Linked DNA regions of Homo sapiens: regions 2, 3, 4, 5 and 6 are each reported to be linked to region 1. The links are microRNA targets in miRTarBase. Many come from high-throughput screens and were not tested one by one. Region 1 holds a microRNA gene; each other region holds the end of a gene's coding sequence.

Region 1 (5,071 bases):
GCCCGCCCTCGTCCCCCGCTGGCTTTTCGCCTCCTGCGAGCCCTTCCGCCCGGCCCCGCTCCGCCGCCTTTCCCCGGCCCGAGCACCTGCACCCAGAGCCCGCGCGCCGCCCGGAGCCGCTGGAGCCGCCGCTGCGAAGGGGGTCCCGCGTCCGCCGCCGCGCTGGAAGCCAGGCCCGAGGACCTCTCCCGCAGCGCCACCGTACCCGCATCCGCAGGCGCGCCACCCCCATCTCCACCCGCTCCTCGTCCCCACCGCCTCTGTCCCATCCTCCGCTCCGTCCTGCCCCGCTTGGCCGCCGCAGCCCCATCCCCTTTCCGCCCCTCCTGTCGGGAGTCCGTGGCCCGTCCCCAGTCCCACCCCACCCGTCGCCCCAGCTGCACCTACCCCTACCCCTCCCGGGCCGCATCCCGGCGTCCCCGCCCCGCTCCCACCGCCCGCCCCGCTCCCACCGCCCGCCCCGCTCCCACCGCCCGCCCCGCTCCCTCCGCCCGCCCCGCTCCCTCCGCCCGCCCCGCTCCCTCCGCCCGCCCCGCTCCCTCCGCCCGCCCCGCTCCCTCCGCCCGCCCCGCTCCCGCATCGCCTGCCGCCGCCCCGGGGCCCCCCTTCCTCTTCCGCCAGGCCCATCCCCCTCCCCGGGCCGTCGCAGCCCTTCGAGCCCCCTCCCCCACCCCCGTGCCTGCCGCACCCGCTGCGACAAGCCCCTTCCCCGCCAATCGCGGCGCCCCCCTCCCCTCGCCTGCCCGCCGCAGCCCCCTCTCCCCGCCCGCCCCCTTCCCTCCCCGCCGCGCCCACTGCACCAGTGCCCCCTCCTCGCCGGGCCGCCGGCGCTGCTGCGTGTCCAGACCCCTGCGCACCCGCTCCGGCTGCGCGGTTTGCCGTCTTCGTCCCTGGCCGCGGCGGCTGGCGACTGGCATCGGGGCGCCCGGGACCCCCAGGGCGGCGACGCTGCCGCCGGTGCCGCCGAGCCTTTGTTCCGCCGCCGGGGCCGGTTTCACGCCTGTCGCCCTCGCAAGCAGCCGCGGGTGACAGGAGCCTTAGCCGGCCTGGGGCGCGGACCCTCCCACCCGGGGCAGAGGTGTCCCTACGACGCCCCTCGGTTTCGGGTCGCAGTGCGCGGCGGAGGTTCTGCGGCGGCGGAGGGGCTCCTTGGCGACGCTGTCATTTGGGTGAAATGGTGGCGGGGGGGCTTCGGGCAGACGGCAGGGGTGTGGGGAGGGGAGGGAAGCACGATGGGGTGAGTCTGGGGGCCGTGGATGCCGTTGACGAGGAGCTGAGATGCCGTGGCCGGTCCACCTCGCAGGTGGGGCCAAGGCTGCCTCTGGCTCAGACGTCAGGAGCCCAGGCGGACAGGGACTGGCCAGGGGCGCAGGCTTCTTAGAGGATGGGGCAAAAGTGAGGAAAAGATCCTCTGCAGCCTGGGCAGTGGGTGGTCCCCAGGAAACCCCCTGGGTCGTTTGTCCAGTGCACCCTCACCCCAGGAGGCTGCTGGACGTGCCGGAGGATGCCACAGCCACCGGAGCTGGTTGGGGTCCGAGAGCAGATGGGCCAGGGGCTGGGGCAGGCTTCGAGAAGAGGGTTCGGGCTTGGGGAAAGCCTTCGCAGCCATCGGCCAGCCAGGAAGGCCCCGTTGCCGGGTGCAGAGCTGAGTAGAGGGCAGGAGCGGGGAGGCCTAGGCTCTTCCCTTGCGTGTTGGGGGGCTGCGGTGCCTGGAGCTCTGCACACAGCCCTACTCCAGCACCGTGGGAGGCAATGCAGGCTGACTGTCCACGCCAAATTCCGGTACCTTAGGCATTCGAGTCTGTTGACACTGAGTGTCTAGGACGAGGCTGTAAAGGTGGATAAAGCCGGCTTTACAGTCTGCACCTCCTGTGTGAGCCGTGGAAGCTTCTGGAGGGATGGGCGTGGCGTGGCGCCATCATCTCTCTGCATTCTCCTTGGGAGGGCTCCAGAGCCACTGGTCACGGGCAGCTGCCAGGCTGGGTCTGGACAAATGAGGTCTGGGTCCATCATTGGGGATGGGGGCCACTGTCAGGATGGGAGTCTCGCCTAAAGCTTTGGGGTGAAGGTGCTGATGACCAAGAGGAAACTGCGGGGTGGGGACATGTCAGCAGGGGACGAGAATGCATGACCTAAAAGGTATCCAAAGTTAAGGCTGGTGGGGGCTTAGTGAGGAGCAGCAGAGTGGGGTGGTCCAGAACCGTCAGGATCGGGAGGGGGAAGATGGAACGAGACAGCAGCTGCCTACGAGCCAGGGAGCAAGAGCTCTGTGCTTTAACCTGAGGAGCAGGAGCCTGGGAACTGGAGACTCTGGGTTTGAGGTGGGGGATGAATCTGCCATTAAACAAATAATCCCCTTCCCCCCCAAAAAAATCCTCAGAGCACTGGGGAAGGGAAGTGTCCCAGTGACTGAGGGAGGGGAGCGCTGTGGAAGGATGGGTCGGCTACAGCAACTTCAGCCCAGGGATCAGGGAAGAGAGGGTCCAGTCCCTGGCCCAGCGGGGAGCAGGCCCGGTGACCTTGACCTGAGCAGCCCCAGGGCCAGAGGGAGGGGTGGGCCGGAAGGGCCCAGATGCCTCCCTGCACGGGGGGAAGGGGATGGGCTGCCGGGACTCACCCCCTAGGTTGGAAAATGCCTCCCTCTGGGTTGGAGGAGGAGAAAGGCCAGGAAGGAGAGGGAGAGGGACATGGGGAGGGTTCCCTCCTGGCCTGAGGCCTCTCTATCCCCAGGTGTTGAGCTGAGAGAAGTGGTGGGGAGGCCCCTGGGGGTGGGGAGGCCCCTGGGTGGGGAGATTTAAGATGACAGCTGGTCTTGGGCACATTGCTCTCCATTCAGAAAGGCCCCAGCCCCTGGCATTCTTCCAGGAGGGGGCTTGCTTTGCCGCCCTGCAGGGGGACTCTGCAGAGCCGGCCTCTGCCATCTCATGTCCAGGACCACAACCTGTGGCCCCGGCCTGCGCCGGGCCGGAGCTCCGCAGAAGGAAGCCAGCGGGAGGCCTCCTGCCTTTGACTGCCGTGCGTCCAGCCTGCAGCGGGCCTCAGGGGGCCGCCTCGATCCAGCCTGCCCGAGGCTCCCAGGCCTTCGCCCGCCTTGCGTCCAGCCTGCCGGGGGCTCCCAGGCCGGCGCCCGAGCTCTGGCTCCGTGTCTTCACTCCCGTGCTTGTCCGAGGAGGGAGGGAGGGACGGGGGCTGTGCTGGGGCAGCTGGAACAACGCAGGTCGCCGGGCCGGCTGGGCGAGTTGGCCGGGCGGGGCTGAGGGGTCGGCGGGGGAGGCTGAGGCGCGGGGGCCGGTGCGCGGCCGTGAGGGGGTGTGAGAGGTGGCTGACGGCGCCGAGGAGCCCCTCAGAACCTGCAGGTGGGGGGAGCTCCCATATCTTACGGGTGTTTCGGGCCTCACCTCTCCATGCCTCTCGTCAGCCTCTCCCGTCTGCGTGGTGGGGGCTGGGGAGTGGGTCCGCCGGGACCTCGCGAGGGAGGGGCACAGGAGGAGCCGGCGGGGGACGCCACCCACCCTCCTCCCTAGGAGTGCTTGAGCCCTAGTCCTGAGTCTTGGACCAGCTCACTCGGTTCCTGTGGCCCAGCCAGCCTGGCCTGGGTGCCCCGTCACAGCTGAGCCCATCTCAGCTGAGCCCAGGGTGTGTCACCGGGAAGCTCAGCTGGCACCTGCCACCCCCTCCCCCAGGCACGTTTCCCTCCCACTGCCCAGCCCATTACCATCATGTGTCCGGCTGACCTGTGCTCTCCTGGTCTGGGCAGCCTGGATGGGTGCACAGGGCCCCATCACAGCCCACACCCTCGGAGAGACGCCTCCTGAGTCTGCTCAGCCTGGCACAGGCCCCAGGAAAGGACCCGGAGGGGCGGTTCCTGCTCTAAATCCTGCCCCCACGGGGGTGGGACTGGGGCAGAATCCCATCAGTGAATAAAGGCTGCAGAGTGAAGGATGGTCCCTGGCGAGTGTACCTGTGTCCCAGTCTTCTTGCCTGAGGGCGCCTTCCCACCCATGTGAGGAGTGGGGAAGGAGCACCCCTTCTCTACTAGGCCCCAGGGCTCTCAGAGCCGGGCTCTGTCCTCACCCCAGCTGGCTCCCACAAGGCCCTCCTGGCCCCAGACTCTGTTGGACCCCCAACTCCCCCTCCAGCAGGCATCTGGAGGTAAGGAGGGGCGGGGGGCGCAGGTGCACTTGCCATTCCCGCTCTGTCTGCAGCATGGGCACATGTAAGTCCAGGCCCTGGGGAATCCCTGGACCTGCAGCCCCTGCGGAGGACTCCCTCCCCCTCTAGCTCAAGCCAGAGCCCCCTGCATCAGTACATTCCAGAACTCAGACAGGAAAAGAGGGCAAGGAGGGAGCGCTCCAGGATAAGAACCCCTACCTCGGCCCTCCCTCGCTCTCCCAGGCCCCTCTGACAACCTGTCTCCTTGCTGTCATGTCAGCAGGCACAGAGGCTACAGGGGCCAAGCGGCAGCCGCCCAAGCCCGGATTCGGGTTCTCTGTTCCCTTCTCTTGTCTCGGGCTCCTCCCTGAGTGTGTGTACTTAGAGGGTGCGGAAGATCAGCAAACTCAGTCTGACCCAGGCATTCAACCTCTGGGTAGTTACCTAGTCCTGGGTCCCCACCCCAGATGGCCTCTAGTGGGTAAGGGCTTCCTGGACCCCAGGCCTGAGGGGTGACTTCTCTTGCAGTAAGCGGGTAGGGCACTGCCTGCGCTGCTCCAGGCCCTGCCTGCAGTGGGGCTACAGATCCCTGCTCCCACCTCCAGGCAGGGCTGGAGCTGCTGCCAGCTCCCCCAGGACAGCCTCGAGCCAGGTGCCTCTGCCCGGGCTGACCCCGCCCTCGGTCCCGGTCCTGGCTCCCTCTCCTGCCTCTCCTCCCTGGCCTGGCCTTCACTTCCTGCTGACCCTCAGGAGGGCGTAAAAGAATGCAGGACCTGCTGCATTCCAGCCACCCTGGCCCAGGGTCCCAGAACAGGATGAGACAGGCCCCTGAGGCGGCAGTCCTGAGGAAAGTTGCTGGAATTCCTGCTGACAACGCCCCCCCTTGACCCCACCCCTCTGACCAAGCCAGGCTCCTGCT
Region 2 (5,071 bases), not on the chromosome of region 1:
CTTGGGCTTCGTATCTTGCTCAACATGAGAAAATTCACAATGAGAGGAAATCCTATGAATGTAAGGAATGTGGAAAGACCTTTCTTCATGGCTCAGAGTTTAATCGACATCAGAAAATTCATACTGGTGAGAGAAACTATGAATGTAAGGAATGTGGAAAGACCTTTTTTCGTGGTTCAGAACTTAATCGACACCAGAAAATTCATACTGGAAAGAGGCCATATGAATGTGAAGAATGTGGAAAAGCCTTTCTCTGGGGTTCACAACTTACTCGACATCAGAGAATGCATACTGGTGAGGAACCTTACGTATGTAAAGAATGTGGGAAATCTTTTATCTGGGGTTCACAGCTTACACGACATAAGAAAATTCATACTGATGCAGAACCTTATGGATGCAAGAAAAGTAGCCACATCTTTAGTCACCATTCATATTTTACTGAACAAAAAATTCATAATAGTGCAAATCTCTGTGAATGGACAGACTATGGGAACACCTTTAGTCATGAGTCAAACTTTGCTCAACACCAGAATATTTACACTTTTGAGAAATCCTATGAATTTAAAGATTTTGAGAAAGCATTTTCTTCAAGCTCTCACTTCATTTCACTCTTGTGAAATATTATATAAAAGTGTAGGAAGGGCTTTATTCATGACTCATTAATTGATGTCATTTATTTTTTTCTCTTGAGGAACACCACAAATGTAAGTAATATTGGAAGGCATTTTAACAGAGCACACATCCAGCAGCAGCAGCAGCAGCAGCAGCAGAGAATTCATCATGCAATCAATATAGGAAAGAAATTACTGATCAGTTATCAATTGCAGAATATCAGGGTAAAATTTTATGAGATAGCATGAATTCTTTTTGAATCATTCTCAAAACATTCTCATCAGAGATGTTGCATAAAGAATTTATATATAATTTGGCCAAGCATGGTGGCTCACACCTGTTATCCTAGCACTTTGGGAAACAGAGGTGGGTGGATCACCTGAGGTCAGGGGTTCGAGACCAGCCTGACCAACATGGTGAAACCCTGTCTCTACTAAATATACAAAAATTAGCCGGGCGTGGTAGCACACGCCTGTAGTCCCAGCTACTCGGGAGGCCGAGGCATGAGAATTCCTTGAACCTGGGAGGTGGAGGTTGCAGTGAGCCAAGATCACATCACTGCACTCCAGCCTGGGTGATAGAACAAGACTCCATCTCAAAAACAAAAACCCACAAGAATTTATATATAATTCATTTTGGAAATCTTTCATCATTAGCAAAATTCTGTTGTATTTCCACAAAAATCATGTAATTAATCTAGAAAAGCCTTGAACTATGTCATACAATTTATTTGGCATGTCTTGTTTCAATACATCCTGCCTCTATTTTTTTTTTTTGGAAAGTATCTTAAATCTATGTCTGTTTAATCGTATTCATTAGATTATAAGGGTTGAATGATTTGAGATTTACATGACTTAGTGACTGTCATTTGTATTGGTATTAAGCCATTTTATGAGAGGAGGACTTTTAAGACTATAATGATTATAGACAAATATGTCATCTCTATTTATGTCTTACTGAACATCAGAATGTTAATTCTGAAAAAAAATCAGTAAAATACAATGAAGAAAGCTTTGAATATTAATTTCACATGCTACATCAAAAAAACCTATAAAAGAAAGCCTTATGACTTTAGTAAAAGTGGGGTTGTTGAGTGTTCAGCAGTTTTTTAAAAGACATTCAGAAATAACTTCTCTCTAACAAATTTCTAAAGCCAAGTGTTATATAATTCTTTACCACAGTTATAACTCAGAAACTAGCAAATGGATAGCCATATGGATTCTTACCTCTTTGAAATTTACTACTATATATAAACCATTCTTAGATTAAAGAGCAAATAAAAAGTGAAATTACAGAGTATTTAGAATGATAATGAGACCTATATTTTAAATCCTGTGAAATAACTAAAACAGTTATCAATAGAAATTGCTCTGTGTATAAAACCAAGAAGACTGAGGGCAGTTTGTTTCTCTTCATCACTGTATCCACAGCACTGTATCCACAGCACTTAGGACAGTGCCTATAATGTTGTAGGGCCTCAAATATTTATTGAGTTAAATAATGATTACACAGCAAGGTAGAATAAGAACAAATACCCCAAATGAATGAATGGAAAGGCTTAATGAAAAGCTGAAATCATGGAATAAAAAACCATACAGGTTTTTCATCAAAATCTAGTCCTTTGAAGAAAACTATTATTCATTAGACTTTGTCAGTGCCTCTACTATATTATAAGGAGAAATGGAATATAACTATATGTTTGGAGATATTTTTTAGTATTAAGTATGTGAACTCTGTTAGACATGATTTTTATATGTGTACGGTTTTTTTCTAGGAAAACATTATTAAATATGATTAAGTTTCAAAAACAACCCAAAAAGTTCAAAAAATAGAAAAAAGTATCATGTAAGATGAGGTTGAGCACAGTGGCTCATGCCTGTAATCCAAACACTCTGGGAGGTTGAGACAGGAGTATCACTTGAACCAGGAGTTCCAGACTTGCCTGGACAACATAGGGAGACCCCCATCTCTGCAAAAAATAAATTAGCCAGGTGTGGTGGCACATGCCTCTGGTCCCAGCTACTCAGGAGGCTGAGGTGAGAGGACTGCTTGGGCCCAGGAGTTTGAGGCTGCAGTAAGCTGTGATCACCCCACTGCACTGCAGTCGGTGATGGAGCAAGACCCTGTCTAAAACAAAACAAAACAAACATGTAAGACTAGAAAACTGTACAGGCTACACCCTGAAGAATAGAAAATCCTATGGAAAATTTGCCAGGGCATGCTAAAAGACTAACATTTTTATAATAAAAGTAGATGGGATAGCTCTTGAACATCAAATTCCAGAAAAATTTCACTCATGAAGATACATGAAAAAAACTTACATAGATGAACCCAATATTTAATCAAAGAATAATATAGTAGATATTTGCTTATAATGTTTAAGCTCTGAGCAGGATGGATAATTTTTATTTTTGAGGTGGAGTCTCACTCTAGTTGCCCAGGCTGGAGTGCAGTGGGGTGATCTTGGCTCATTACAATCTCTGCCTGCCAGGTTCAAATGATTCTCCTGCATCAGCCTCCCGAGTACCTGGGATTACAGGCACCCTCCACCATGCCTGGCTAATTTTTGTATTTTCAATAGAGATGGGGTTTCACCATGTTGGCCAGGCTGGTCTCGAGCTCCCGACCTCAGGTGATCCGCCCACCTCAGCCTCCCAAAGTGCCAGGATTACAGGTGTGAGCCACCGTGACCAGCCTGGATGGGTAATTCTGAATGATGAAAAGTTACTTTATCAATTTCTTCTAAGTGAAGTTCTTGGTATCTTTTAGTGTTACATGAGTTAAGAAATGGTGACTATATGTACACATATTTAGCACATTTTGTAAGTCACACCTTTAACAGGTAGTTCCCTCCTAAATTATTGTCATCTATGGAATTTCACAATTTGTGTGAAAAATAATTTTTTGTTATGTAACTGTATTGTAATAAGCCATTTTCATTCATGTTGACTAGATCTTTTTTAAGGTGACAAGTACACTGAGATGGAGTTTCACTCTGTTGCCAGGCTGGAGTGCGCTTGCACAATCTTGGCTCACTGCAACCTCCGCCTCCCGGGTTCAAGAGATTCTCCTGCCTCAGCCTCCCGAGAGGCTGGGACTACAGGCATGCGCCACCATGCCCAGCTAGTTTTTGTATTTTTAGTAGAGATGGGGTTTCCCCATGTTGGCCAGGATGATCTCGATCTCTTGACCTCGTGATCTGCCCGCCTCAGCCTCCCAAAGTGCTGGGATTACAGGCGTGAACCACCGCACCCAGCTATGTTTATACTTTCAAAAACAGTGGAAGGATAAGCCAAGACCTAATCAAAATGATGAAATAATAGGTGGGAGCAGGGTGTGGTGGTGCACGCCTGTAATCCCAGCTACTTGGGAGGACATGGTAGGAGGATCCCTCGAGCATAGGAGTTCAAGTCCAACCTGGGCAACATAGCAAAACCCCTGTCTCTTAAGAAAAATTAAAATACAAACTATAGGTGGGAGAGAGCAAGGTTGGAAAGTAGTCACCTTTGATTTTACCTTGTTTTTATCTGAGAATCATTTTATAACCTCACAGTAAAGAATATTTCCTAGACAAAACATTTTAACTAGAAAAGTGTGGCATATTCATATTAATTTTATTATTCTGTTAACTGAAAGTCACCAGTAACAGAATGAACAGATGTCTGCTTCTGATCAAATGGAGAAACAGACCAGATTTACCCTTATATCTGTAAATACTAAAAAGCTAAACGAAATAGGTGAAACAATGGTTTTTAAGACATTGAATATACTAAAATGTCAATTTCCAATGAAGAACAGTGATCCCTGAAAAAAACAGAAATAAATTTTTCCTAGTTTTTCCAGATTACTGCTGGGAGGAGTAACTCAGGCAGAGCCTGGTGGTCTCCTAGTGTTTAGATAGAATGAGGAGTCTGATGAGGCCAAAGTGGCCCGAGTTGACAAGGCAAAACACTGAAGAGGAGAGAACTGCACGGAAATCTCCAGAGGATCTTCCTTTAAGTTCAGCTAAATATTCATCAACACGTGCGTGTGTGAAAACTACCTGAAGCCAGGGAAAAACAATTACCTTAAAGGATTAGAGGGAAGAATCCACAGAGCTCAAAAACGTCCAGGAATAATTCCTTTTCCCAGTAGCCAAAGTGGAAAATAAAAAATTACTAGGCATCAGCTGGGTGCGGTGGCTCGAGCCTGTAATTCCAGCACTTCGGGAGGCTGAGGCGGGTGGATCACCTGAGGTCAGGAGTTCGAGACCAGCCTGATCAACATGGTGAAACCCCGTCTCTACTAAAAATACCAAAAAAAAAAACCCGCCAGGTCTGTAATCCCAGCTACTCAGGAGGCTGAGGCAGGAGAATCACTTGAACCCGGGAGACAGAGGTTGCAGTGAGCTGAGATCGCACCACTGCACTCCAGCCTGGGCGACAGAGCGAGACTCCAGTTCAAAAAAATAAATAAAAAT
Region 3 (5,071 bases), not on the chromosome of region 1:
TTGAAGCAGACATCCTGCACTACTCTGGCCATGGCATGGATCTTGACAAGGCCCTGGAGGGCTGCAGCCCAGACCACACAATCATCTTGCTAGCTCACCAGCCCCTGGCTGCCAAGAGAGCTCTCCAGGCTCGGCCAGATATTAACCTGATCCTTTCTGGGCACACACATGCTGGGCAGATCTTCCCCTTGAACGTAGCAGCCTATCTCCTGAATCCCTTCTTTGCTGGTCTCTACCAGGTGGCCCAGGCTACATTCGTGTATGTCAGCCCAGGCACAGCCTACTACGGGATACCCATGAGGCTGGGTAGCAGGGCCGAGATCACAGAGCTCATCCTGCAGCGGTCTCCCTGAACTGGCCCTGCCCTGTGCACCTCTGCCCTGCCCTTGTCCTCGACCCTCCATCCTGCTTCAGAGTGGTTTGCCTGCTTTTCCCCTCCAGCCTTGCCCACTCATCCTTGCCTACACACCCTTGGTCACAAGCCTGACTCAAACAGTGACTTATGGTGGGCCTGCCTGGCATGTTCAGGCTGGTTTAACTATTTCCTTGGCCAGTTGCTTTTTTTGATGCACTTGTGAGATCACTAAGGTCACATATATTAGCACTCCCCTCTATTTTCCAGATGATGTGGAATGGGGACCTTCTCCTGCAGAGCTCCCAGGGATGAACCTCCCCTCGGGGTTGCTAGAAAGGCATACCTCTAGAAGGTGGGGCGGGGAGGAGCAGGAGCATTTTTCTCCTGGTGTTTTAAAATTGTCTTTAGGACTTAAGTGGTTTCCAGAATCATTGATCCAGAGCCTTTCTGGGGAAGGGGTAGTGTTGCCAGGTAATTTGGGAGAACAGGCAAGATGGAAGGGCCCTCTGGCTGCTAGAGAAGAATATTTTCTTTTCCTCTGATTCTATCAGGATCACCTCTATTGAGGGCATCAGCAAAATCTACTGGAATGCAAAGCTCCTCCTGTTCCAGGCCTTGAGGGATGCTATTTAACTGTCTGTGCTCCTGGGCCTTTGGGGGCAAGGTCAGGGGAGAAGAACGGTGGGCGCCATGGTCGGTGATGGTGAGAACATGGCTGCTTAGGAATTCAGAGGGCTTTGCCTCCCTTGTCTCATTTTATACAACCCTTCGGGGAGCTCACTGGGGACAGGCTGCTTTTCCCTATTTGGAGATAAGGAAACCAAGGCAAAGAGAGATAGGGCACAGGCAGTATGACAAGATATGTAGGAGATTTGGGGCTAGAAACCAGGTCTTGTACCTCCCAGTAAAAGCGGTGCTTTTGCCCTTTTGCCAGAAGCAATAGATCCTTTGATCCTGAGATGGAGATAAGCACCCGTGTTAGAAAAGGCCTCACTGAGAAGACAGGGCTGGGCTGGTTTCCTGCTGGGTGATTTAGGCTTGTGATGGAAAGTCTTCCTCCAATGGGGAGTGAAGACACTCGCTCTGACTGGAGAGGCTAACCCTGCTGCTCACTCATAGGGCAGCGTTGGGTGGGTGACTTTCCCTCACTCAGCCTTGGTTTCCATCAACCCTAAAATGGGGATAATTATCGTATCTACCTCAAGATTGTTTTGTCAGGAGGGATCCATCAAGCCTTGTGCATGAGTTCCACATGGCACAGCGTGCACAGTAAACACTCAATGTTAATTTTTCAACGTTCCAGTGGAGCTTGCTAAGGAACTCTGTTGGGCACAGGTGCCCAGAGGATTCATGGAGCAGCCAGTCCTGGGGAATGTGAGTGGGTAGCGAGCTGCCTGCTGCTGGGGCAGGTGATGTGTCAAAGCAGCAACTGCTAGGGGTTTGCCTTCCTTCCCTCATGTGCATTCTGGCAGGCAAAGGGGGTTTCTTCCTTTCCTCCTTGTCCTCCTGGTGTATAGTGGGGTTCTGGGGGATCTGGAGACCACCCTTTTTGTTCCCAGGCAGCCACGGTATTGACAGTGGGCCATACCATGCAGTTTAAAATGTATCTTTGAGTTGAAATTTTGGTGGTTTCCTTATTCTTTTTTCTCTCTTCACTGTCCTTCCAAACTCACTTTTCTTGTGTCCCGACCGCATTTTGTGAATCATCCTTACTCCCTTTAAGTTCTCGCTTTGGATTTCACCAGGTGGGCTAGATGGTGCCATTTCACTTCCACTGTTTGATGCGGCTGGTAATGTTTGACTCACCTGTTACGTGTTATTTCACTGGTTTCTTGATTTTACATCTTTCTCATCAGTGACCTGGGCTTGATGAAATTAGCTTTCATTAAGTCCTATTTTTTTTTTAATTTTGCATCCTTACCTCTTTTCTTTCTCTTGAATGCCATCATTGTGTGGTCTTATGTACCCTTCATCCACTCTGAAGTCCTTGCTTGACTGATTGCTTTCTATTAGCAGAAAGAAAACAGGTCCATCCTATGTATCTGAGAAACAACATCAACACCCTCTCGTATGTGGTTTGTATTCCCTGACGCGGCGGACATTTTTGCAGCAGAAATTTCTCCATCACTGTCCAGATTCTGGCCCTGGTGGGCAGGTCTCCATGACACCTTTAGTCCCTTTGTTCAACATTCTTAAACCATGGACCTTTTTGTTTGTTTGTGGCCGGGGGAGGTGGTGAGAAACGTTACTTGAAGCTTGATCATTCTTTCAATTTCATTTGTTTCTTTATTTTTAATCTGTTAGATGCAAATTGAAATGCAATGCTTTTTGAAAATCAGCAATAGTGTCTGTAGTATATGATGCTGTCACAAAATCTCAATAAATTGATCCTGCTGCCATTCCTTCCAAATACCCATCCATGCTTTTCTTCCCCTCGTGTTTTGTTTGGTTTGTTTTAAACTTTTCGTACATGTACCTCTCTCCCAGCTTTAACAAGCATGACGAGACCACTCTGCCATCCTTTCTCAGCTACCCCTGCCCCACCTGTACTCTTTATTTTTTGGCTGGAGTATATTAAGGTAAATCATAGAAAACATAATGTTACCCCAAAATTACTTCAGTATGAATCCTTTTTCAAAAAGCATAGCTATAGTGTCATTATCATATCCAATGAAATTAACAGTGATTCTTGAATATCATCTAATAGCTAGTTAGGAGATTTGGGGCTAGTAGCCAGATTTTTGACCTCTTTAAAGAAGTGTTCTTTCCACTCTCTGAGTATTAAGTAGCTGTATCTGTCACAAATGAGTACAGAATTCAAATGCAGTTAACTGTGTGAAGAGTTAGTGTTTAGTTTTTCCTGATTATCTCAACTATATTTTTTATTGTGGCAAAAAAATTACTATCTTAACCATTTTTTTTGTTCTTTTTGTTGTTGTTGATCTTAACCATTTTTAAGTGAATAGTTCAACAGTGTTAGGTATATTCACATTGTTGTGAAATTGATCTAATTGATCTGTAGAACTTTTTCATCTTGCAAATCTATATACCCATTGAGCAACAAGGCTCCATTTCCCCCTTCCTCCAGCCCCTGGTGACCACAATTCTACTTTCTGTTTCTATGAATTTGACTGCTTTAGATACCTCGTATAAGTGAAATCATGCAGTTTTTGTCTTTTTGTGGCGGGCTTATTTCAGTTAGTATAATGACCTTAAGGTTGTGGCACGTGACTGGATTTCTGTCCTTTTTAAGGCTGGACTACAGTAATACTCTTGTATTTTCATGCCACATTTTGTTTATCCATGTTGAGCATGTTTTCATGGGCTTGTTGGCCACCTGTATACCTTCTTTGGAGAAATGTCTATTCAAGTCCTTTGCCTATCTTTAAATCAGGTTATTTAATTTATTGTTGTGGAGATGTAGGAGTTCTTTATATATTCTGGACATTAACCCCTTATCAGATACGTAATTTGCAGATATTTTCTTCAGTTCTGTACATTGCCTTTTCACTGATTGTGACCTTTGATGCACAGAGTTTTAAAGTTTAATGCAGGCCCATTTCTCTATTTTTGCTTTTATTTTGGCATCATATCCAAGAAATCATTGCCAAGTTCAATATCACGTAGCTTTTTTCCCCATGTTTTCTTCTAGGAGTGTTATAGTTTTGGGTCTTACGTTTAGGTCTTTAACCCATATTGAATTAATTTTTGTGTATGGTATAAGATAAGGGTCCAACTTCATTCTCTTGCCTGTGAATATCCAGTTTTCCCAGCACTGTTTTCTGAAGAAATTGTCCTTTTCTAACATCAAGAGATCTTGGCATCTTTGTTGAAAATCATTTGACCATATACACAAGAGTTTGTTTCTTGGTGTTCTATCCTCTCATTGCTCTATGTCTGTCTTTATGTCATTACCATGCTATTCTGATTACCACAGCTTTGCAATATGTTTTGAAATCAGGAGGTATGAGTCTTTCAACTTTGCTCTTCTTTTTCAAGACTTTAGTCTATTTGGTGTCTGTTGAGATTCCATATGAATTTTAGGATAAATTTTTCTATTTCTGCAAGAAATGCTATTGGGATTTTTATAGGGATTGTGTTGAATCTGTGAATCACTTTGGGTAGTATGAACATCTTAACAATATGAACCTTCCACTCCATGAACATAGGATGTTTTTTCCATTTGTTTGTGTCTTCTTTAATTTCTTTTTAACAGTGTTTTGTAGTTTTCAGTGTAGTCTTTCACCTTAGTTAGGCCTATTTCTAAGTATTTTATTCTTTTTGATGCTTTTATATATGGAATTTTTTGAAATTCCATTTAGGATTGTTCATTTTTAGTGTATAGAGAAGCAACTGATTTTGGTATGTTGCTTTTTGTATCCTGCAACTTTGCTGAATTCATTTATTAGTTCTAACAGTTTGTGTGTGTGTGTGTGTGTGTGTGTGTGTGTGTGTGTGTGTGTAGTCTTTAGGGTTTCCTACATCTAAGATTATATCATCTGTGAATCGATCATTTTACTTCTCCTTTCTAATTTGAATGCCTTTTATTTCTTTCTTGCCTAGTTGCTCTGACTAGGACTTCCAAAACTATGTTGAGTAGAAGTGGCAAAAACAGACATCTTGCCTTTTTCCTGATCTTAGAGGAAAAGCTTGCAGTCTTTCACTATTGAATATGATGTTAGCTATGGGCTCTTCACATGTGGGCTTTATGATGTG
Region 4 (5,071 bases), not on the chromosome of region 1:
AACATGTTCATGAGCTTATTTGCTAAGCATTCATTCTTTCCACGGACATTTCTTGAGTGCCTGTAGTGACCTACACACTGGGCCGGGGGTAGGGAGACACCTGTGACCAGGCAGACATGGTCCTTGACCTCAGAGTGACAGTTGACTTGACAGAAGATCAAGAGTGTCTGTGTGTGATCTGCAAGTGTGCTAGGCCTGGGAGCTCTGTGCCAGCTGCCTAAAAAAGAACCCGTCCCTGCCCTCTGGGGGTGGACAGCCTAGTCAGGGGATAGACACATAAAACGAAGTGTTCTAAAAGCTATGGCAGGAATGACAGCCAGCTCTAGGGGGTGCAGGGCAGGAACGCCAAGACGTGTATCAAGCTGTGAATGCTAACAGCTGTTCTTCCCCCACAGCATGGACAAGGACAGCCCGGAGGTCCACCAGGACCTGAACGCCCTCAAAAGCAAGTTCCAGGAGATGCGCAAGCTCATCAGCACCATGCCCGGCATCCACCTGAGCCCCGAACAGCAGCAGCAGCAGCTGCAGAGCCTCCGGGAGCAAGTCAGGACCAAGAATGAGCTTCTGCAAAAGTACAAGAGCCTCTGCATGTTCGAAATCCCCAAGGAGTAGAGTGAGGCTGACTTCCTTAGAAAGAGGGGGAAGCCAATGGCCTGTCTCCCCACTACCATCCCCAAACGCTCCTTGGGGCGTGGTTCCTGTGGACCCCAGCTCAGCTCGTCAAGCTGCAGGGGCGGGGCTCCTGTGCTGCTGCGCGCGCTTCGCCTGTGCGGGAGCCAGCGCAGAGCTTGGCTGCGCCGGGGGTTCCTCGTGTAGATCCATATGTCTAGATGCATAATAACTGGAGTGCCTGCTGGTGGAAGTCAGAATGCTCCTGGAGGCTGCAGAGGGGGTGGAGGACTCTCCCCTGCCTCTGGGGAGGGGGCCATCTGCTGCGCCCGGCCCCACTGACAGATCTGAAGAGCACAGTAGGAAGGGAGGCGGCTCCTCTTTGCTTCCTTCCCTCTCTCTCCTCCCACCCCCATAGGATCAGTGTGTACCAGGTACACATTGTTCCTGTTAACAGCAGCTTCTTGAAACATTTGCATAGAATTCACTGGACGAATTAAGCCTGCACTCATATGGCATAGAATTGTGAGAGAATGTTTTGAAAGGCCAGAGGGTGGCCTTTTTCCCCAAACAGTTTGGTTCCTTTTATGTTTGAGCCAGTGAAGGGAACTACGCTTTGGGGGCTTCAGCCTAGAGCCCTGCCAGGCAGCCCCTGGCTCCAGGTTCCCTGCCTCCTAGCGCTCTCCTCGCCTTCAGCTCTTGCTCCCTTCCTCGTTCATCACCCTCAGTCAGTGCCCAAGAGTGGCCAAACCGCTTCACATCTGCAGTGCTTCCCCAGGGTTGACAAGGGGCCGTCCTTTCCACACAGGCCAGAAGAGGTCTTCAGGCGAACCGACCTTCCCCCTTCTGGCATTTCAGATTCCCCTTGCTCTGGTTAAAAGGTCTTTCCCTCGTGGCCTTTGCACTTGCGGCAGCAACGTGTACTACACTGCAGAAGGGTTCAGTATGCACCTTGTGTTGAGAGAGAGGCAACCCTGGGGGCCAGTTCAGGTGGTCCCCAACCATAAGCTAGGTCTGAAAGTTACACAGCCAAGTTTGAGCTCTTAAAAGTTGATGAACAGCCTCATTTCCCCAGCTTCCCTGATTTCTTCCAGATGGGACGTTTTATTTGTGTGCTCTCCCTTGACTGTCAGATTGAAGTAAGAGCAGTTCTCTCCGTTGCCTCTCGAGGAGGAGGTGCGAAGTCCTGGAGTATTGTTTGGGTCTCGGAATGGGCGCATAACCTGCGCTGACCAGTTTAGGGGCTTAGCAGATGCCTGCCAGCTGACCTCGTTGGCAGGAGGGTTGGGTGGAGATGTTTTTAGCAGAGCTTCCATTAGTGTAGACCTGTAGCCACCTGTCAGAAGGTGGGTGGCATATTGGGGACCTGGGAATGTGTGAAGGAGGAGATCAAATTTCAGTGGCTTTGGACAGAAAAGAAGGCTCTGGATTTAAGCGGGTGGTCACCTGTGAGACCAGGTCTACCTTGGGACTGTTATTTAACTGAATCAGTTATTTCCTTGAAATTTCACAGTAGTGGGTGGGCCTGTTTTAAGGCTCTGACAGATACCACGAAACATGAAGCACGTGGAACTACAAGACCCCCGGGGTCTTTCTGAGTGCAAGGCTGAAATGGACAAGGGCTCCTCACGGGGGTGGAGGGAGCCGGAGCCTGCCTTGTGTTCCTTTTTTGACTTGTGACATTTTTCAAACACATAATTAAAAGGACTTATGCTCTGCTGTCTCAGGACATAATGCTTTTTGTACTGAGAAATTCATAGTGGGATGGCTCTCAGATAGTTGAGAGGAAAATGTTTCTCTCAGTCTCTTCAGACACAACCACACCTCTGCTCCTCACTCCCTCCGCCCCAGCACACACACCCGCCCCAGCACACACACCCGCTGAACCAGTGTGGAACAGGAACTCCTCTCCCGGCTGGCCTCAAGGGCAGTTTGCCTGGCGGGTCATCCCTGGGCTGTCCTTAGTTGCCTTTTATTTTTGGAGGGGGGAGGTGGGGGGTGCCTTTTGGTGACTCGAGGAGGTTCAGTCCTGTGGGGAGCCGCCCTCACCAGAGCAGGGTTGAAATCCTTCTAGGACAATTTTGAGTGTCTCTCACAGGGCTGAGCGTCCTCTGAAAGCCACCAATTACTTGGATTACTGGGTGGCCGGCATTTATGCTAAGTACTTTTCAAACATCACACTTAATCCCCACAGTGAGCCCATGCCGAGGGTGTTCTCTCTTCCCGGGGTGAAGAATTAGAGGCTTGGCAGGTGTCACCCACCAACAGGTTTGCAGTACTAGTGGCAGAGAGATTGGTGTTCTGGGGTGCCTTAGCCATGAGACGGAGACAGCAAGGCTGAAGGGGGATGGGGCTCTACACCTGGCCAGGAGCACTTCCTGGAGCTAGAGGGGAGCAGAGGCTGAGGAGTTAGCTGTTTCCAGACAGGGTGGCACCCTGGAGTGAGCGGGTGGTGGGGGCGCGCCAGGATGGTCCTGTTTCCAGATGGGGTCTCAGGCTCTTTCCCCAGGGCCTGACTGATGCCTCCAACAGTCCGAAAGTTTGCCTGGGCCCACACTGAGTCTGGTGACAAAATGGTTAGGCACAGTTCCAGTGGCTTTTACGCTGAAGAATTCAGAACATTCTCTCAGAAAATGAGGCCTTTTGTCATCTAACCCAAAGAAAATTAAGCGGGTGGATGGCTAGAAAGAGTTCATCTCCAGGGGGGACCCTGAAATCCTTTATATTCTTCCCGGTTTTCTAGGGAACCATCCCCTACATAGATGCCCCAGGCATCTGGGGCTTTTCTGGCAGCTGAAGCTGCCTTCAGAAGGCCAGGGTTATTTTCCAGTTCTGGGGAAGGTAAGTTCTAGTTCCACCTAAGTCAAAGCCCAGCCCTTTCCTTCTCCCCACCCTTCCCCACTCCAGCCATCTCTAAAAGCAAAAAAAAAAAAAAAAAAACCGGTTTTCCATTTTAAATTATTTTATTGTATATTAAAAAACCAAATAAAGCAATAACTTTAAAGACCTCAGACACACACAGTATAAACACCTGGGTAAGGTTTTGTTCGTGTCCATGTTGACACCGGAACTACCGTTAAAGTGCAAGTTTTGTTTTGTGTTCCTTTGTGCAGTTTCACTCACATGTAAACAAGTCACTTGGCTATGATTTGACCCACGCCCCCCCGCTTAGTTTTGGGAGGGCAGAGGCTCTACCGGCTGTCACAGCAACCCGGAATCACAGACAAGATAATGCCCCGTGGGTCCTGACCCTCAAGCGGGCATGACGGTTTCTTGAAGCCTAGCAGAGGCTGGATAACTTCACATCCCTCCCCCACCCCGCGCTCACTCTTAGGTCTTTGAGAAGATAAATCCACCCTCGGCTGGGCCCTCGCTCCCAAAGTTATGGGGGTGGCGGGCCTCAATGGGGGACCGGGGGTGGGGAATAGTCCCAGTCTTGGCCCGTTCTCTTTCCTTCCGGAGCAGATGACCGTCCCTTCTCGGTTCAGTGGCGCCTCCCCAGTGCTGGGGGCGGATCGCCGGGAGGGGAGACGCCAGTCCGCGCGCGCTCCCGGCCTGGGGCGCACCGGGCCGTTGGATTTGACTTAACAAAAAGGTCCTCCTTAGGTTGTGTCGCCAGCGCGGCGGGGCTCCTAGCTGATGACGCAGCGCTCCTTGTCCTTGGCCTGGCTGCCGGCGCTGGCCTTCTCGCGGATGTACATGAGGTCGCTGTGTACGCTGGGCCGGCGCGCGAAGGGTGCCACGATGCCAAAGGCGTCGCCCGGGTCGCCGCCGCCGCCGCCGCTGCCGGCCCGCAGCAGCTTCTTGTTCCGCAGCGCCTTCTTGTGCAGCACGTCGCAGTACTGCACCGAGACCTTGCGGTGCAGGTCTGGGCTCATCTCGCTGGGCAGCTTGGCCATGGCGAAGAGCGCGCGGAACATCTGGTCCAGGCTGCTGTTCTTCTTGGCCGAGATCTCGAAGTAGGCGCAGCGCTGGGGGTCGTCGCCCACCAGCTGCTCGATCTCGCGCTGGTCCACCTCGCGGTAGAAGTCGCGGTCACCCTTGTTGCCGCAGATGACCAGGGGCACGTCCACGTTCTCCTTGGTTTTGTTCTTGAGGCAAGACTTGGTGTCGAGGATCTGCTGCCTGAGCCGCTGCACCTCCTCGAAGGAGTCGCGGTTGTCCAGACTGAACACCAGGATGAAAACGTCTCCTAGAGGGGGCACAGAGAGCAGAAAAGGAGAAGGTGAGGGTGGCCGCCCAGGGGACAAGTCGGGCTGACTTTGAGGCCGCGCGGGGCGCGCTAGCCTCTCTAAGCGCGAAGCGCACTACTCGGCGCGCGGCAGCCGGACCGGCGCTCGCGGGGCGCCCTGGCCGAGGGTTCCCCGCCCTTCCCTCCCGCACCTGCCCGGCCCCCGGCTCACCTGTGAGGATGGAGAGGCGCCGCATGGCGGGGAACGGGTGGTTGCCGGACGTGTCGAGG
Region 5 (5,071 bases), not on the chromosome of region 1:
CCCAAAGTGCTGGGATTACAGGTGTGAGCCCCTCACTGCTCCTGGCTCCCTCATTATTATATTTCCTGAAGTTGACATGATTTGGGTCCTTTACTTAGAAATTGTCATCACACAATTTCAGAAAGGTAAAGAAATCCATTTTTATTGGCAACTTTGGGCTATGCTTCATCCTGGCAAAAATTTAAAAGCAGTACACTTCGACGTGGCTCACTTTCCTGCACACCTCAGGCAGCTTGTACAGACTATCCAAGAAAAAATGAGGAGGAAAGTGCTCCATCAAGGAAGAGGGATGAGATGGGAGCATAATTCACACACTAAGAACTGAGTTCTAAAGTCACTTGAGCTTTCTGGAGCTCAGTTACCTGTAAAACAAGGAAGAATGAATGGTCTTTATGGAAAATGAATGGCAGAATAAGTGATTTGTCAAGTTCATTGAACTATAAATTCCATTTTTACTGTCATTTATTTATAACAAAGTTCAGATATAAAGAAAAATCTGAACATACAGTAGGCACAGATAAACCTATAGCAAATATTCACATGTGGTTTGAATGCATTTATTAATCTCTGTACTTATTAGAATTAATAATAATACTAAAATGATTTGGAGAATTAATGATTAATAACAGTGGAAAATAGCCTTCCCATTATTGTTAGAGGATGGTGCCATCATGATGCTAAATGCCTATCTGAGGGGAAGCTCATAAATATTACTTGACAATATTACTTGATAAATATTTGTTGAAAAAAGAAATGTAGTAAAGAAGCAAGGATGGCTGGGCATGGTGGAGCATGGCTGTGGTCCCAGCTAACTTGGGATGCTGAGGTGGGAGGATTGTTTGAGGGAAGCTGAGTTTGCAGTGAGCCAAGATTGCACTACTGCACTGCAGCCTGGGTGACAGAGTGAGACCCTCTCCAAAAAAAGAAAAAAAAAAAGAGAAAAAAAAGAAGCAGCAGCAACGAAAGGAGGGAGGAAGGGAGAAAGTTTACTTTGATATGCCATATGATTGAAACAAATGCTCTTTTTTCAAAGACAAGGATTATACTCCTTTGCATTCCAGCTACTTTGGTCCATTGTAACTTGGTAACCTTTGCCTTGAAAACAAAAAGAATCCCTGGATATAATCTCCTTCCTTGTAATTTTTTTTATAAGATGCCAGTATGGTAATAGGTCCATTAGCAAGTAAGTACAGGCACATCTTATTTTATTATACTTCTCAGATACTGCATTTTTTACAAATTGAAGGTTTGTGGCAACCCTGCATCAAGGAAGTCTGTTGACATCATTTTTGCAATAGTATGTACTCACTTTATGTCTCTGTGTCACATTTTGGTAATTCTTGCCATATTTCACACTGTTTCATTATTATCTCTGTTATTAAAATCTGTAGTCAACGATCTTTGATGTTGCTATTATAATTACTGGGGGCACCATGAACCACACTTATATAACACAGTAAACTTAATAAATGTGTGTATGTTCTGATTGCTCCAACAACCAACCTTTCTCCAATCTTTCTCCTTCTTCTCAGGCCTCCTTAGTCCCTGAGACACAATATTGAAAGTAGATCAATTAATAACCCTAAAATAGCCTCCAGGTATTTCAAGTGAGAGGAAGTTGCAATCTTTCACTTTAAATCAAAAGCTAGAAATGAATAAGCTTAGTGAGGAAGGTGTGTCAAAAGCTGAGACAGGCTGAAAGCTAAGCCTCTTATGCCAAACAACCAAGTTGTAAATGCAAAGGAAAAGTTCTTGAAGGAAATTAAAAGTGCTACTTTGTGAATGCATGAATGATAAAAAAGTAAAACAGCCTTACTGCTGATATGGAGAAACTTTGAGTCATCTGAATAGAAGATCAAGCCAGCCACAAAATTCCCTTAAGCCAAAGCCTAGTTCAGAGCAAGGCCCTAACTCTCTTCAATTCTATGAAAGCTAAAGGGAGGTGAGGAAGCTTCAGAAAAAAAGTTTGAAGGTAGCAGAGTCTGGTTCATGAGTTTGAAGAAAAGAAGCCTTGTGCATCCATAAAAGTGCAAAGTAAAGCAGCAAATGTTGATGTAGAAGCTGCAGTAAGTTATCCAGAAGATCTAGTTAAGATAATTAATGAAAGTGGCTACACTAAACAATAGATTTTCAAAAGAGATGAAACAGCCTTATATTGGAAGAAGATGCCATCTCAGACTTACGTATCTAGAGAGGAGTAGTCAATGCCTCACTTCAAAGCTTCAACCAACAGGCTTACTCCTTGTTAGAAGTTAACGCAGCTGGTGATTTTAAGTTGAAATCAATGCTCATTTACCATTTCCCCAAATCCTACGACTTTTCAGAATTATGCTAAATCTAATCTGCCTGTGCTCTATAAATGGAGCAACAAAGCCTGAATGACAGCATGTCTATGGACAGCATGGTTTACTGGACATTTTAAGCTCACTTTTTGAGTCTTACTGCTCAGAAAAAAAAAGAATCTTTTAAAAATATTGCTGTTCGGGCCGGGCGCAGTGGCTCATGCCTGTAATCCCAGCACTTTGGGAGGCCGAGGCCAAAGTCAGTAGTTCGAGACCACCCTGACTAACATGGTGAAACCCCATCTCTACTAAAAATACAAAAATAAGCTGGGTGTAGTGGTGGGCGCCTGTAAATCCAGCTACTCAGGGGTCTGAGGCAGGAGAATCACTTGAACCCCGGAGGCAGAGGTTGCAGTGAGCCAAGATCGCACCACTGCACTCCAGCCTGGGTGACAGAGCGAGACTCCATCTCGAAAAAAATATATATATATATAATATATATTATATATTTTATATATGTATATAAAATATATATATAAATGATCAGTTCCAGACCACTATAATATATATATATATAGCTGTTCACTGACAATATACCCAGTCACCCAAGAACTTGGATAGAGATATACAAGGAGATTAATATTTTCGTGCCTGCTAACACAATACCTATTGTGCAGCACAGGAATCAAGGAGTCATTTGCACTTTTCGTAAGACTATAACTGTCACAGATTGTGATCCCGCTAATGGATCTGGGCAAAGCAAATTAAAAACCTGGAAAGGATTCACCATTCTAGATGCTGTTAAGAACATCGTGATTCATGGGAGAAGGTCAAAATAGGAAGATCAATGAGTTCGGAAACTGATTCCATCCCTCATGGATGATTTTAAGAGGCCCAAGACTTCATTGGAGGAAGCTCTGCTATAGACATAGTGGAAATAGCAAGAGAACTGGAATTAGAAGTGGAGCCTGAAGATGTGACTGAATTGCTGCAATCTCATTACAAAAGTTTAATAGATGAAGACTTGCTTCTTATGAATGAACGAAGAAAGTGATTTCTTGAGATGGAATCTACTCGCGTAAGTTGCTATGTACATTATTGAAATGACAACAAAGGATTTACAACATTACATAAATTTCATTAATAAAGCAGCAACAGGGTTTGAGAGGATTGGCTCCAATTTCAAAAGAAGTTGTACTACTGGTAAAATGCTATCATACAGCATCACATGCTGCAGAGAAATCTTTCATGAAGAAAAAGTCAATCGAAGTGGCAAACTTCATTGCTGTCTTATTTTAAGAAATTGCCACCATCACCCCCAACCTTCAGTAACCACCACCCTGATCATTCAGCAGCCATCAACATCAATGCAAAAAGATTATGATCATTAGCAATTTTTAGCAATAAAGTATTTTTAAAATAAAACATGTACATTTTTTGGACATAAAGCTATTATACACTTAATAGACTACTAAAGAGTGTAAACATAACTTTTATATGCACTGAGAAACCAAAAATTTTGTGTGACTCACTTTATTGCGATATCCACTTTATTATGGTGGTCTGGAACTGATCCTGTAATATCTCCATGGTATGCCTGTGCTGTACAGGGGGTAAAGTGTGAGGGGTCAAGAATTTTCATGCCAGAAATTCCATAGCAGCCTACTAGAACTCTGGAAGTATCGCCTTTGGCTGCAGTGCCAGATTCTGGTGAGGATTTCCTGGACCCCGATTTATATCTGAAAAAACACTAAAAATAACAGAAGCAGGGCAGGAAGTGGCTATGATAACAAAGCTGGGCTTGGTACTTTCTCTGGCTTTTGTGGCCAATATTACTGGACTCCCGTGGTATCAAGTTTCATAAAAGAAACTCATACAAAGCAGAGATATCTTAATTATTTTCAGACTGGCATTTCAAAAAGTGTCAATTTAAGTAAGTATTATAAGTTATTTGTTCTTTGTTTTATCTTTTCAGATGTTTCTTGAAAACATTGTGGTGTGATCTTTAACAGAGTTTTCACTTACCAATTAATACAAAAAATAAGAAAAAGCTTTAAATACATATTTTATAAAATTTTATATGCCAAATAAGGTCCTTCATATAAGAAAAGGAAAATAATATCAATTTTCAGTACTATTATTTAGCACTAGAGCCCCTCCAGTTAGAAAAACAATTCTTTTAAATGTCTTTATGATTTGAGGTTTCAATAATAACTCATGAATAGGTGAAAGTTTGCTATTTATTTAGTCTTAGAAAAACACTGAAAGAAAAAGGCAGGAAATGTAGTACGCAGTGTGGAAGAATGGAGCTGGCCACATGTAGTTTTAGCAGCTGCAGAGGAAACTGGCTGAGTCTAAGGTTACATATTTCTGCTCAGTAAGGGTATCCATGGTGATAACTCTCATGATGACGGTAGTCATCCTGGTAACCATCCTGGTATCCTTGGTGGTAACTATGGTAACCATAGCCTGCATACTCATCTTCTGGGCAGCGCATCCCCAGTGACTGCTGAATCGCCATTTCCTGTCTCCGAAGTTGCATCGAATCAATTAAATCGTACACAATCACCATGGACCACATTGGGGAAGGATACCAGGATTTGACATTTCCGTCTTTTCCGACTAGAAGCATGGAGAAGTACTCCGGGCTCACTTGAAAATAGTTACGAATGTCTTTCACCAAATGGGCTGGTACGTCTTCTCGCTCAACAACAGAGCTCCCTAGAATAACATTGGAATAGTTATTGTTAGTAGATTAAACAGTCAGAGCCCATGAAAACATTAAAGTG
Region 6 (5,071 bases), not on the chromosome of region 1:
GACCCATACGGCATTTCCCGGGACAGACAAACTGCTGTCGGGCTACCCCAGCTCGTCGTCTCTGGCCAGCGCTGCCGCGGCCGCCATGGCTTGCCACATGCACATCCCCACCTCGGGCGCACCGGGCAGCCCTGGGACGCTGGCGCTGCGCAGCCCCCACCACGCGCTGGGACTCAGCAGCCGCTACCACCCCTACTCCAAGAGCCCGCTTCCCACGCCTGGCGCCCCCGTGCCGGTGCCCGCCGCCACCGGACCGTACTACTCCCCCTACGCCCTCTACGGACAGAGACTGACCACCGCCTCGGCGCTGGGGTATCAGTGAGGGCGGCCGGGAGGGCGAGCGAGGGAGAGGAGGGAGAGGGGGAGGGGAGGAGTCCAGGGAGAGGCGGGATCACGGCCCAGGCTGCTGACACCCGCGCGTGGGGAGGACTCGGGCCACGAAAGGAAAGAAATGTATACCGTATCTATCTACCCGACAGCAGCGACCGAGACCCGGTGGGACACTCCCCTTCTCCCCACTTTCACCTCCCCACCCAAACTTTATAAAAGTTGAAAAAATATCATTTGACTTTTTATAGAAAAAAAAAGGAAAAAATAATTGAGAAAGTGTTCATCTGAGGACTGCATCGGTGGACACTGGTATTTATTTATGTTAGCTCCAAGCGGACCGGTGGTTCAAAAGTGCATTATTTAGTTTGAGCTCTGTAGGTAAAAAGGAGGTGGGAAAAATTTTAAAACTTGAGGGTAAAAATGTGGAAAACAAACCCTCCCATCCCTTGTAGATTATAAATAAAAGCAAAACCGCCACAGAACTAGAGGTCTTCTCTTTAATGTTACTTTAAAATTGCTATGATTGTATTGTACGTTATTTAATGTCTGATTGAAACACAAATTTACATGCATGTTTGTTACAAAAAAAATGAAAAAAAAAGTCACAATTTGTCAGCTCTGATTTCAAATTGCAATTATTTTTAAGGTGTATACCATCGAAGAGAATGGGTATTTTTTTGTATGTATTCTGGAAGAAAACAACAAAAAAAAAAAGAAAAAGAAAAAATTCTATTCCAAAACCTCATTTGCCTTATTTTGTTCTTTAAAAGGAACACTTAACTATTTTTAATTTTTAAGTCCACCCGCTGAGAAGGGGACAAGGTTTACGTCATGTACTAAAATAATAGACAATGTATCGCTTTAAAGATTAAAATTCCGTATATTTGATGTATTAAAGGGTTTTACTTCTTCTTCTTATCTTTTTTATTTTGGTTAAAGAGAGCATGGCAGTTTCGGCCGCAGTGGGTTCCGGGGCCTCACTGCTACTCCTTCTTCCCGGGACCGTGGCTGAATTTCCGATCGCTTTGTTGTGATTTTCTGGGAGGCAAAGGCGTCGGAAGGGGCTACCAGCCGCGAAGTTGGCCTTGGGGAACATATTTTTAGAGGATATTTCACCATTTGGAAAATAGTGTCCTCCGCTATCTATCATTTCGTTTTTATTTCAATTTTCTCTTGGCAGCTGGCTTGTTAAAAGTGAAAGGGGGTGTGGGGCGGGGGACAGGGTTTTTGTTAAATTTCCCTCCTGAGCTTTTTGGGCATTTGGGTTTCGTTTTGTGCAGAGTGGAGCAGGCCGGGACTCGCCGGCTGGGCCTGGGCCGGGGCCTCGGGGACGTGGGGCAGCGCGCTGGGGCAAGCCGAATAGACTGGGAGGCGGAGGGGCGCTGGGGGAACCTGTGTCCCGGGCCTGGGGGGAGTACGCAGGGACCCTCTGGTCCCTAGGGGAGAGTGCGTCCTCTTTTCTTCTTCTGGCTGCCCAGGGCCTTCTAAACGCTCCCCGCAACCCTCGCCCTCACCCCCACCCCCACCCGCCCGCTCCTTCCTCCCTCCAGAGTCGGGACCCGGGGCTGGCCGGCGCCACCGCTGCTTTTCCCCGTCCGGGTGGCTCTGCAGCCGGCGCTCTATTCCATTCCGCGCCGCAGGAGAGCCCGCCCGGCCAGGACCCGGAAAGCCCCTCCAAGTGCGGCCCCGCGAGCGTCCCGGCGCCCAGGTCCGGCCTTTCTGGGGCTACCAGGTGGGCACCTAGGGCTCCGCTCTGCAGAAGCGCGGCGGGAGTCTGGGTCCGGGCGCAGCTCCCTGTGGCGCGGGCCGCTGTCTTCTCCCCAGCTTGGGCCGCAGGACAGAGCTGCCCGAAGCGCCGAAGGAAGCACGCAGAAAAAAGTCTCAGTCCCTTTTGGGGGGAGGGGGGCCGAGACCCAGCGCCCCCTCCCAGACGCTCCAGGCCTGGGCGCTAGCCCAGGTCCTCCGGCTAGTTGGGAGCTCTGAGCCCAGAGCGCCCTTTCCAAGGATTCCGGGACCGTGGAGTCACAGCTCTGAGAGCGCACCCCAAACTCTCCGCTCCCTGGGGTCAGGCTCTTCCGGTTTCTCCGAGTCTCGGGATCCCCTCGGCGCTCAGGTACCCCTGTTGCCTCTGGGGACTCACGGCCGCGCGAAGTCAGCCTTTGGCCTCTCGCCTGCGTCCGACAGCCCGCGGCCCCTGCCGCCATTTGCACCGGGATTGGTGACTTTGAGATTTTCCACCCTCCTCCCAGCGCCAGCCTCACGGCTGCAGGGCCTTTACCCGGGTTGCACGCAAAGCCACCCCCAGCGACCTCCCGGACACTGCGGGAAGCGCGCGGGCCGCCTCCTGGAACTGACTTGGTGGGGACTCTGGCTCCGCCGCCGTCTCCACACCCCCGACCCTGATGTCCGGACGTCGCGAGACCCCAGGAAACGGAGCTGGCGCCGAGGAGGACCCCTGGCCCGCAGCGTCTTCGGACGCCGCGGCCCCGGTCCCACTCTGGTCCCGCCGAGAGAGGCTGAGCTGGGCCTGGTTCCTTGAGAATCCTGGCCGGCGGGCTTGTCGCCCCGGCCTCTTGGACAGACATCCCCCGCCCTGCAGGTGGGAGGGCGGGAGCGCGTGGCGGTGCTGCAGCCGGGGTCCCACGCTCCGGTGCCCGCAGCTCAGGACCTGAAAGCCAGGCGTCTACCACTCTCTCACCAGCAGCGGCCACGCGCTCCTGGCCACTGCGACCCACAGGCTGTGCCTCTTTTCCCTAGCGTCTTCGGACAGGGGTCCCTGAGCGACCACACCTTGCCGGCCCGGAAGGACCTAGACATTCCCCCGCCCTGGGATTCAGGCTTGGGACCAGCAGGGAGACGAACCCGGGACGTTCGTGCCTTCATGCCCCTTCTTGGTATTTTATCAACACAACCCAAAACCAAAGCCCCTTAAAAGTTTGATGAAACTCCTTCCGGGAGCAGCTACACAGAGGCAGCAGCGTTCCGGCGCTGGGGCGCCCGGGGGTGAGGACAGAAAGGATTCCCCGACGTGTTGGACGGATCCGAGTCACCCCGGGCGCGCGGTAAGTGAAGGGTGGGTGCCAGTATCTGCTGCGTGTCCAGGCCGAGGTGCGAGCCTCCTCGGAGGGACAAATGCCCCTCCCCAAGGCGCGCCCCCCGACTCTCTCCAGCTTTTTCCCGAACAGCCGCGGGATCCCCGGCGCGCCGGCTGGCGGCTGGAGCCCGGGCGGAGCGCCGCGTGTCCACCAGGCGGCGCTGCAGAGCCCGGCGGAGCAGGAAGGAGTCCTGGAACCCCGGCCAGCGCGCGGGCAGCCGGCTGGATGGGCATCCCGAGGCCCCGCGCTTCCACTTTCGCGTGGCTTTGGGAGCGGTGTCCAGGAGGCCCCTCCCTGTGACTCCTCGCTTCTTTTCTCCTGCTGCGAACCGTCTCCCCTGCTCTTCTCCACCCGCTCCAGCTTCTGCGCTTGTTTCCTCCTCGTTCTCTATTCCTGTCCAGAGGATTGGCCCACGTGTCTGTCCCTTCCCAACCTGGGGAGCTCCCACCCTCAAGGCTCTGATACGTCACCTTGTCTGCCATGCTGAAGCAGTCGCCACACAGGCCTGCATTCATTCACTCCCTCCTTCACTGATGATTTCCTAGCGCCCACTCCTTGCCAAGGGCTGCTCATCCCATTTACTCGTCCCTGACACAGTTTGAGAAACCGAGGCTAAGTCCTGGAGGCCAGTGGCAGGGCTGGCGGATAAGGCCCAGGCCTTTCCCCCACCATCCAATCTTATCCCCCTACCTGTGCCTCTGGTGGTGACACAGCGACCCTGGTGTCCTTGTGCTGGGTAACTCCGCATAGATGCAGATCAGGGAGGTGTGCCTCCGAGAGAGCTGCTGAAGAAGGACCAGCTTCTGAAATCTGCCACAAGCCTGTGGACCTCTGAGTAAGCACAACTAACACAAATGCAGATGCCTGTCAACACACGCACTCACTTGTTTCCACACTTTCACTCCTACTTCCACAGAAGCCACCCCCTGCTCTGACTCTGCCACACCTGGTCACGTGTGGCACACACTTATGCTCCGACAGCAGACAGGAGAAGGAAAGATGTGGGCTTGGTCTTTAAGCAGTGAGGAAAGGCAGATAAAAAAGCCCCACTAGGTGATGAACTTCTTGTGATTTAGAAAACTCATAAGGCTGCAGCTCCAGCAGCGCAATCGGTTAGCACACAGTACTTACACAGAAGACTCGTAAAAGTTGCCCAGAAGGTGGGACTTATCCCCTGTCAGGTCATCGGCTGGCCTCTGCTGCACGTATTGGCTTAGGGTTCCTCACCGAATGTGGCTAGCAGCCTGGTGGTGCTTAGAGTGACTGGAAAACCCAGGCTGACCTGCTCACATCTGTCACGGGCTATGCCCAGCCCATGGGATCCTGTATCATCCCACTTACACTTCACAACAGTTCCATGAGGTCATTAGAATCTTCACCCCATTACTAGACTTAATACCTGGATGATGAAATAATCTGTACAACACACCTCCATGACACAAGTTTACCCATGTAACAAACCTGCACTTGTACCCCTGAACTTAAAAGAATCTTCACCTCGTTTTTCAGATGAGGAGACTGAGGCTCAGCAGCGGAAAGACAGTGGCTTGAGGTACACAGCTAGTGAGAGATGGCTATAAGCAGGGATTCTCACCTTGGCTGCTCTTGCCTGATGAAGTTTTAAAGCAGAACAGTGCCTGGGAGCC

What was found. The annotated mature microRNA hsa-miR-149-3p reads AGGGAGGGACGGGGGCUGUGC and lies in region 1 at 3,175-3,195, shown strand. An mRNA with a match to its seed (bases 2 to 7 or 8) in the 3' UTR can be bound and repressed. Matches are read on the target gene's strand: a 7mer-m8 pairs with bases 2 to 8, a 7mer-A1 pairs with bases 2 to 7 and ends in A, and an 8mer does both.
Region 2: the mRNA of ZNF790 is a reported target of hsa-miR-149-3p. The part of its 3' UTR that is shown has no 7-base or 8-base seed match.
Region 3: the mRNA of TMPPE is a reported target of hsa-miR-149-3p. Seed matches in the 3' UTR shown: 7mer-A1 at 1,253-1,259.
Region 4: the mRNA of RASD1 is a reported target of hsa-miR-149-3p. Seed matches in the 3' UTR shown: 7mer-m8 at 4,130-4,136 and 8mer at 3,785-3,792.
Region 5: the mRNA of CCDC80 is a reported target of hsa-miR-149-3p. Seed matches in the 3' UTR shown: 7mer-A1 at 2,524-2,530 and 7mer-A1 at 828-834.
Region 6: miRTarBase lists ZNF503 as a target of hsa-miR-149-3p. Seed matches in the 3' UTR shown: 8mer at 765-772.

The regions. Positions count from the first base shown.
Region 1 is chr2:240,452,882-240,457,952 of GRCh38, forward strand. It overlaps MIR149 (microRNA 149), which reads left to right and starts at 3,120; the gene lies at 3,120-3,208. All of the region lies in intron 1 of GPC1 (glypican 1), which reads left to right. It overlaps GPC1-AS1 (GPC1 antisense RNA 1), which reads right to left and starts at 3,819. Exons shown (of 3, transcript NR_161169.1): 1 at 3,716-3,819. RefSeq lists enhancers at 2,420-3,070, 5,023-5,071.
Region 2 is chr19:36,813,979-36,819,049 of GRCh38, reverse strand. It overlaps ZNF790 (zinc finger protein 790), which reads left to right. Exons shown (of 5, transcript NM_206894.4): 5 at 1-1,622. The coding sequence ends at 617. The region is part of intron 3 of ZNF790-AS1 (ZNF790 antisense RNA 1); the gene reads right to left. Among named protein-coding and RNA genes, the nearest start is that of ZNF790-AS1, 19 kb to the right of the region's middle.
Region 3 is chr3:33,088,116-33,093,186 of GRCh38, reverse strand. TMPPE (transmembrane protein with metallophosphoesterase domain) reads left to right here. Exons shown (of 2, transcript NM_001039770.3): 2 at 1-2,765. The coding sequence ends at 353. The region is part of intron 1 of GLB1 (galactosidase beta 1); the gene reads left to right. Among named protein-coding and RNA genes, the nearest start is that of GLB1, 6.5 kb to the left of the region's middle.
Region 4 is chr17:17,490,884-17,495,954 of GRCh38, forward strand. RASD1 (ras related dexamethasone induced 1) reads right to left here. Exons shown (of 2, transcript NM_016084.5): 1 at 5,013-5,071; 2 at 3,554-4,801. The coding sequence ends at 4,242. MED9 (mediator complex subunit 9) reads left to right here. Exons shown (of 2, transcript NM_018019.3): 2 at 396-2,338. The coding sequence ends at 612. Among named protein-coding and RNA genes, the nearest start is that of RASD1, 3.0 kb to the right of the region's middle.
Region 5 is chr3:112,600,761-112,605,831 of GRCh38, forward strand. CCDC80 (coiled-coil domain containing 80) reads right to left here. Exons shown (of 8, transcript NM_199511.3): 8 at 1-5,003. The coding sequence ends at 4,657. Among named protein-coding and RNA genes, the nearest start is that of CCDC80, 38 kb to the right of the region's middle. RefSeq lists an enhancer at 3,128-3,297.
Region 6 is chr10:75,394,000-75,399,070 of GRCh38, reverse strand. ZNF503 (zinc finger protein 503) reads left to right here. Exons shown (of 2, transcript NM_032772.6): 2 at 1-1,241. The coding sequence ends at 322. It overlaps LOC124902461, which reads right to left. Exons shown (of 1, transcript XM_047426122.1): 1 at 814-5,071. The coding sequence starts at 2,915. The coding sequence ends at 1,950. Among named protein-coding and RNA genes, the nearest start is that of ZNF503-AS2, 5.0 kb to the left of the region's middle.